Regions from separate parts of the Homo sapiens genome. Here region 2 is linked to region 1. Evidence: fine-mapped expression QTL. A gene starts in region 1. The other region holds a variant in brackets. All regions are shown on one strand. Distances are from middle to middle.

Region 1 (2,904 bases):
ATCTTGTGAAATTTTTCACAAGAAACTGGTAACCCTAGTTGCCTTGAAGGAAGGAAAATTTATTCACTATAATAACCTTGTTTCTTCTGAATTTTGTAGAATGTAAATGTATTACTTATTCAAAACGCATACACATTTTTATATTAATAGAAAGCAAAACCTGAGGCCCAAAGGCATCTGCCTAATTGACAAAAGATACAACCTTGCGTTCTTTCAGCAAATATTTATTGCTCATCACCTGCCAGGTATTGTGATGGAAGCTAGTGCGGAAGATCCCCCAATGACCAGGATCGCCCGACCCCTGTTCCCAGGGTGAGCCCCTAGCGCGGAGCGGGGACAGGGTGGACCGAGTAGGGCGCAGTGCTGGTCTCGCGAGGCTCCCTGCCCCACGGAGGCAGTAGCAGGACCCAACCGTTCCTAACCGTCCAGGGACCAGGACAGCGTCTGGAATAAAATCTTCCAAAGCAAACTTCCGCCTGCGGAGACCCGCTCCCTTCCTCGCCCCCACAGAAACGCCCCCCGCCACCACCCCCTCCCCCGGCGTAGGCCTTCACGCTGTCGCCTCGACCCGTTTCCTCGAATCCCCAGGGAAGGGTGGGCCCCTGGCGCCCCTATGGCCCGCCGCCCCCTTACCACCGCGGTCGGAGCCCGGGTCTCACTCTCCTGCCGCTGTTTCGGGCCACACCGTGTGTCCGTGCCTCCGCAAAGGAATAGAAGAGTGGGTCCTCGCTCTCTGCGGCGCACCGCTTGTCCCTTGACTTCCTGTCCATCTACAAAGCCTATTTCATGTTTTCCAGAAAGAAAACGTTTTCCGTGTCTCTTGAGTCCTCATCGCCATATGCGGGGCGGGACCGATCTATGCAAAAGATCGCAAGAGAAAACTGATGGAGCATCGCCCATCATGAGGCTGCTCTCCCGATGGTCACTGAGTTGTGTTGTGGCACTGTCTTTGTACAAAGACACCAATTTTTGCGAACGGTGCCACTCATGATTCAACGCTCTCATGCCTCGGTCCCAGCTGCTGGAGCGCAGATTTTCCTCCAAGGGTTAGAAGATAGAAAACTCCTCGGTAATTGGCCTAGAGGTGGTCTGCGAGGACGCCGGGAAGCTTGTAATTGGCTGTTTAATTCTCAGCAGGTGCGGTCTCAGTTAACAACATCTGCTTTTCCTGGATCTTATTGGCTGACAGGGTGGGCCTGCTTTGGATTCCATCCGGGTAATTGGGCAGCGGCTAGCAGCAGCCACGTCGCTCAGGGGCAGCCCGCGGAAGGATTGGTTGTGACGGGAGAAGGCGATTGGTCGGACTGCGAGCAGGGTGTTGATTGGTGCTGTCGGGCTGCGGGGGCGGGGAAGTGGCGGCTGAAGCGCCGCCGGCGGGGCTCACTGTGGTGGTGTGAGTGGGAGGCGGCGGCGCTGGTGGCTGCAGCTGGGGTGAGGCGCGAGGCGGCGCACTCGACGGCTGACTGGAGCAGCGGTAAAGGCGAGGATGGAGACCGAAGGTTTGGGGAGTGGGAAAGACAGGGTCATGGGCAGCCCTGGCCACTAGGAGACGGAAATGCGGGAGCGAGGGAAGGGAGGGGTCTGGCGTGCCCCGGGGCGAGGGAAGGATGTGGGGCGCAGCGGGGGAGTCAGAGCCCTGGGCTGTGAGACGCCGCTCGGGGGCAACTTGACCCACTGGGAACTCGTAACTGTATCTGAGGAAGATGCTCCAGTCACCCGCTTACGCCACAACGGACCCGGTGCGGGAGCGTTTGTGTTTGCCCTGAGTCAGTTCAGACTCTTCCACTGGGCCTTTTTGAGACTGAGAGCTGCCATCCGTATATCACTTTGCCTTTAACTTTCCCCAGCTTTTTCTTTAGTTATCGCTAATAGGATGGCTGTTTACAGTCGTCAGAATAATACATTGGGGTTTTTGTTTTTCCAGTATCCCTCATTCCTTAATCCAGGTATCATCGTGGGGGTTGGCTGGAGACCCCTATTTCAAAGACTGACTTTTAGACCCTTTCCTTGTTTTGAGAGAAAGGGGTTGACACTTTTTTTTTTCTCGTGAATTTAAAATAAACGTACCAAGGATGAGAACATTGAGCTGCTTCGATTCAAGCATGTCACCATGTTGTAGGTTCTTTGTAGGTTCTGGTTATTAGGAGATACTGGAATGAGTTATCTATGCTTTCATGGAGCTAACAATGTGATTTGACTTCTCATCACATCCTATTTGACTCCTGTCATTTTAAATGATAAAGTAAGCCTTAGCGATGCATATCAGATAGTTTTTGGCAATTGTTCAATACAAATGTCAGGAAATTTCAAAGTTAGCTTTCACTGAAAACCATTATCTAACCACATTCCTCACTGAACAATGATCCTCATCTTCTCTTCTTAGCTTCCCCTAGAAACTGTGGTCTTAAGTTCTAGTATTTTCCTCCTTCCCATTCAATTTTTAAGTAATAAAATCAAACACAAGCTAGCAGTCAGTACTATGCAGTTATCCCCGTTTACATTATATTATTTTCCATTTCTCTTTAAGAGAAACTTATAGCTGAAAGGATATGAAAATTGTGAACAAAACCATAGTGACAGATCAAGTAGAGTCTCATTTTTTGAGACATCAGCTGATAACTCAATTAGCACAAATTCATTTGTAATGTTTGAAGAGGAGTTAGTGAAATTTACCTTTTGCTTCAAATAGAAGTCGGCCAAAACCGCACCTATAATCTCAGCTACGCCGGACGACTGCGGGAGTTCAAGGCTGCAGTGAGCTATTATCATTCACTGCATTCCATCCTGGGTGACAGACCAAGGCTCTGTCTCTAAATAAACAACAACAAACTCTCCAATTCATCTGTTCTCCATCTCCATCATTGACACCTGGACTAGGCCCTGATTGGTCTCCTGCAGCCACGG
Region 2 (2,904 bases), 21 kb after region 1:
ACCGTGAACACTTGATGATTGCACTACCCTTTATTCCTAGGATGGAAAGTGTCCTGAATCACATCCCGGGCCCCTGATTCCATGTGTCAAGGCTTCCAGCCCCTCAAAGCGTTGGAATAAGCATGTTCAAGGAGGCTCACTGGGCAGGTGGCCAACATCCCTTTCAAGGGGATACACCATAAAGATGACATTGTCCAAGGGAGGGAGGGCAGGGTGATCTGGTCTGACCACCTCAAAGCCCATGTAGCTGAAGGCCCGCAGCAGGGCACCTGTGAAAGGATAGAACAAATGATTAGAACATGCTTTAAAACTCAATACATGTATGCCCCCAGATTTGATTTCTTCCACTAGGGAGTGGCCCTGGGAAGCAGTGTAGTGCAGGCATATAGGATGTGCTTTAGTCCAACAGACCTAGGCTCTAACTCTGGTTTTAACACTTGTTCTGTGAGTTAGTCCTGCAGAACTTCAGTTTCCATCTATAGAATTTTCCATTTATAAATCATAGAACCTTCCTCCTCACAGAATTTAAGATGAAATGAGATGTTCATGAAGTGCTTAACACTAGAGATTAGTGAGGTCTACCTATATACTAATACAATGATGACATAGTAAGCTCTGAAATAGTATCTATCACTTATGAATGGTTATTCACCATCCCTTATATCCAACAGAGTTTGAGCTCCTTGAGGCAAGAGGCTATAGTTTCTGTAACATATGCTCCAGGCATCCGGTTAAATATGTCCCCGTTCCCTTGGCCTTATGTCTGACCCTTTCACATTGTAGGTGCTCCATATGTTTGAGATCCATTTTGTCCTGCTGGCCACATCCCTTGAATGGATTCTGTGTAATTTCACCAGTGCTCCTTCAGTCTGGCCCCTAACACCACCTGCAGGGGCTTCCTCAGAGTCCAGTTGTAACTTGATGGAACAAGTTACAACTTCCCACCTTCGTGGTAGGTGGGAAGAAAAGAATCCCTGAAATGCCTGAGGGTGCATTTTTAAAGACAGGGGAAGAGGGTCTCCTATAAAGGAAAAGGAGTTATCCAGCTGCCTCAGCGCGAAAAGCAAGGAAGAACAGCAGATCCCCACCTCTGTCGTTCCGATCATTCTGGAAGTTCACAAACACAGAGTCCACATTTGTCTTCTCTTCCACGTACTCCAGGGTTGCAGTCAAACTAGGAGCCACAGAAAAACAGTTAAAATGTTTGGCCGCTCCCTCTCCCTCTCCCTCTCCGTCTCCGTCTCCCCATGGTCTCCCTCTCCCTCTCTCTCCACGGTCTCCCTCTGATGCCACCAAAGTTGTGAAAGCCGAAGCTGGACTGTACTGCTGCCATCTCGGCTCACTGCAACCTCCCTGCCTGATTCTCCTGCCTCAGCCTGCTGAGTGCCTGGGATTGCAGGCGCGTGCCGCCA[T/C]GCCTGACTGGTTTTCGTATTTTGGTGGAGACGGGGTTTCGCTGTGTTGGCCGGGCTGGTCTCCAGCTCCTAACCACGAGTGATCTGCCAGCCTCGGCCTCCTGAGGTGCCGGGATTGCAGACGGAGCCTCGTTCACTCAGTGCTCAGTGTTGCCCAGGCTGGAGTGCAGTGGCGTGATCTCGGCTCGCTACAACCTCCACCTCCCAGCCGCCTGCCTTGGCCTCCCAAAGTGCCGAGATTGCAGCCTCTGCCCGGCCACCACCCCGTCTGGGAAGTGAGGAGCGTCTCTGCCTGGCCGCCCATCGTCTGGGATGTGAGGAGCGCCTCTGCCCGGCCGTCATCCCGTCTAGGAAGTGAGGAGCGTCTCCGCCCAGCCGCCCATCGTCTGGGATGTGGGGAGCGCCTCTACCCGGCCACGACCCTGTCTGGGAACTGAGGAGTGTCTCTGCCCAGCCGCGACCCCATCTGGGAGGTGAGGAGCATCTCTGCCCGTCCGCCCTGTCTGAGAAGTGAGGAGCCCCTCCGCCCGGCAGCCGCCTCGTCTGGGAAGTGAGGGGCGTCTCCGCCCGGCAGCTGCCCCGTCCGGGAGGTGGGGGGCAGCCCCCGCCCGGTCAGCCGCCCCGTCTGGGAGGGAGGTGGGGGGCAGTCCCCACCCGGCCACCGCCCCCTCCGGGAGGTGGGGGGTGCGTCTGCCCGGCCGCCCCTTTTGGGAAGTGAGCCCCTCTGCCCGGCCGCCACACCGTCTGGGAGGTGTACCCAAGAGCTCATTGAGAATGGGCCATGATGACGATGGCGGTTTTGTCGAATAGAAAAGGGGGAAATGTGGGGAAAAGATAGAGAAATCAGATTGTTGCTGTGTCTGTGTAGAAAGAAGTAGACATAGGAGACTCCATTTTGTTCTGTACTAAGAAAAATTCTTCTGCCTTGGGATGCTGTTAATCTATAACCTTACCCCCAACCCCATGCTCTCTGAAACGTGCTGTGTCCACTCAGGGTTAAATGGATTAAGGGCGGTGCAAGATGTGCTTTGTTAAACAGATGCTTGAAGGCAGCATGCTCGTTAAGAGTCATCACCACTCCCTAATCTCAAGTACCCAGGGACACAAACACTGCGGAAGGCCGCAGGGTCCTCTGCCTAGGAAAACCAGAGACCCTTGTTCACTTGTTTATCTGCTGACCTTCCCTCCACTATTGTCCTATGACCCTGCCAAATCCCCCTCTGTGAGAAACACCCAAGAATGATCAATAAATACTGGGAAAAAAAAATTTGGCCAACTCAGAATCCAGAAAGACACCTACTTGGAGCAGTAAAAATATTATTGGTCGTTTTCTGCCCTCCACCCACCCAAGCCAGGAAATGAAAGTTGCTAAACTAGTTTTGGTAGATTTTTCTTGGAAGCCAAGAGATTGCACATCACTGGATGTAAGCCACAGAAGGGGTCTGGGGAGAAAGGACTACTGAGATGAACAGCTAGAAAGTACTTCCCGTTA

Evidence for each region. PIP is the estimated chance that this variant, and not a neighbour inherited with it, causes the effect.
Region 2: its variant is fine-mapped to the expression of TDRKH in whole blood (TOPMed, PIP 0.94).

Annotation. Positions count from the first base shown.
Region 1 is chr1:151,788,975-151,791,878 of GRCh38, reverse strand. It overlaps TDRKH (tudor and KH domain containing), which reads left to right and starts at 1,379. Exons shown (of 13, transcript NM_001083965.2): 1 at 1,379-1,499. It overlaps TDRKH-AS1 (TDRKH antisense RNA 1), which reads right to left and starts at 1,130. Exons shown (of 2, transcript NR_146292.1): 1 at 634-1,130. RefSeq lists a silencer at 1,435-1,694.
Region 2 is chr1:151,768,442-151,771,345 of GRCh38, reverse strand. OAZ3 (ornithine decarboxylase antizyme 3) reads right to left here. Exons shown (of 5, transcript NM_016178.2): 4 at 1,089-1,174; 5 at 16-269. The coding sequence ends at 127. It also overlaps a transcript of TDRKH not described here. Among named protein-coding and RNA genes, the nearest start is that of OAZ3, 3.2 kb to the right of the region's middle. RefSeq lists enhancers at 885-1,579, 1,580-2,276. The variant T/C (reference allele first, on the strand shown) is at 1,413.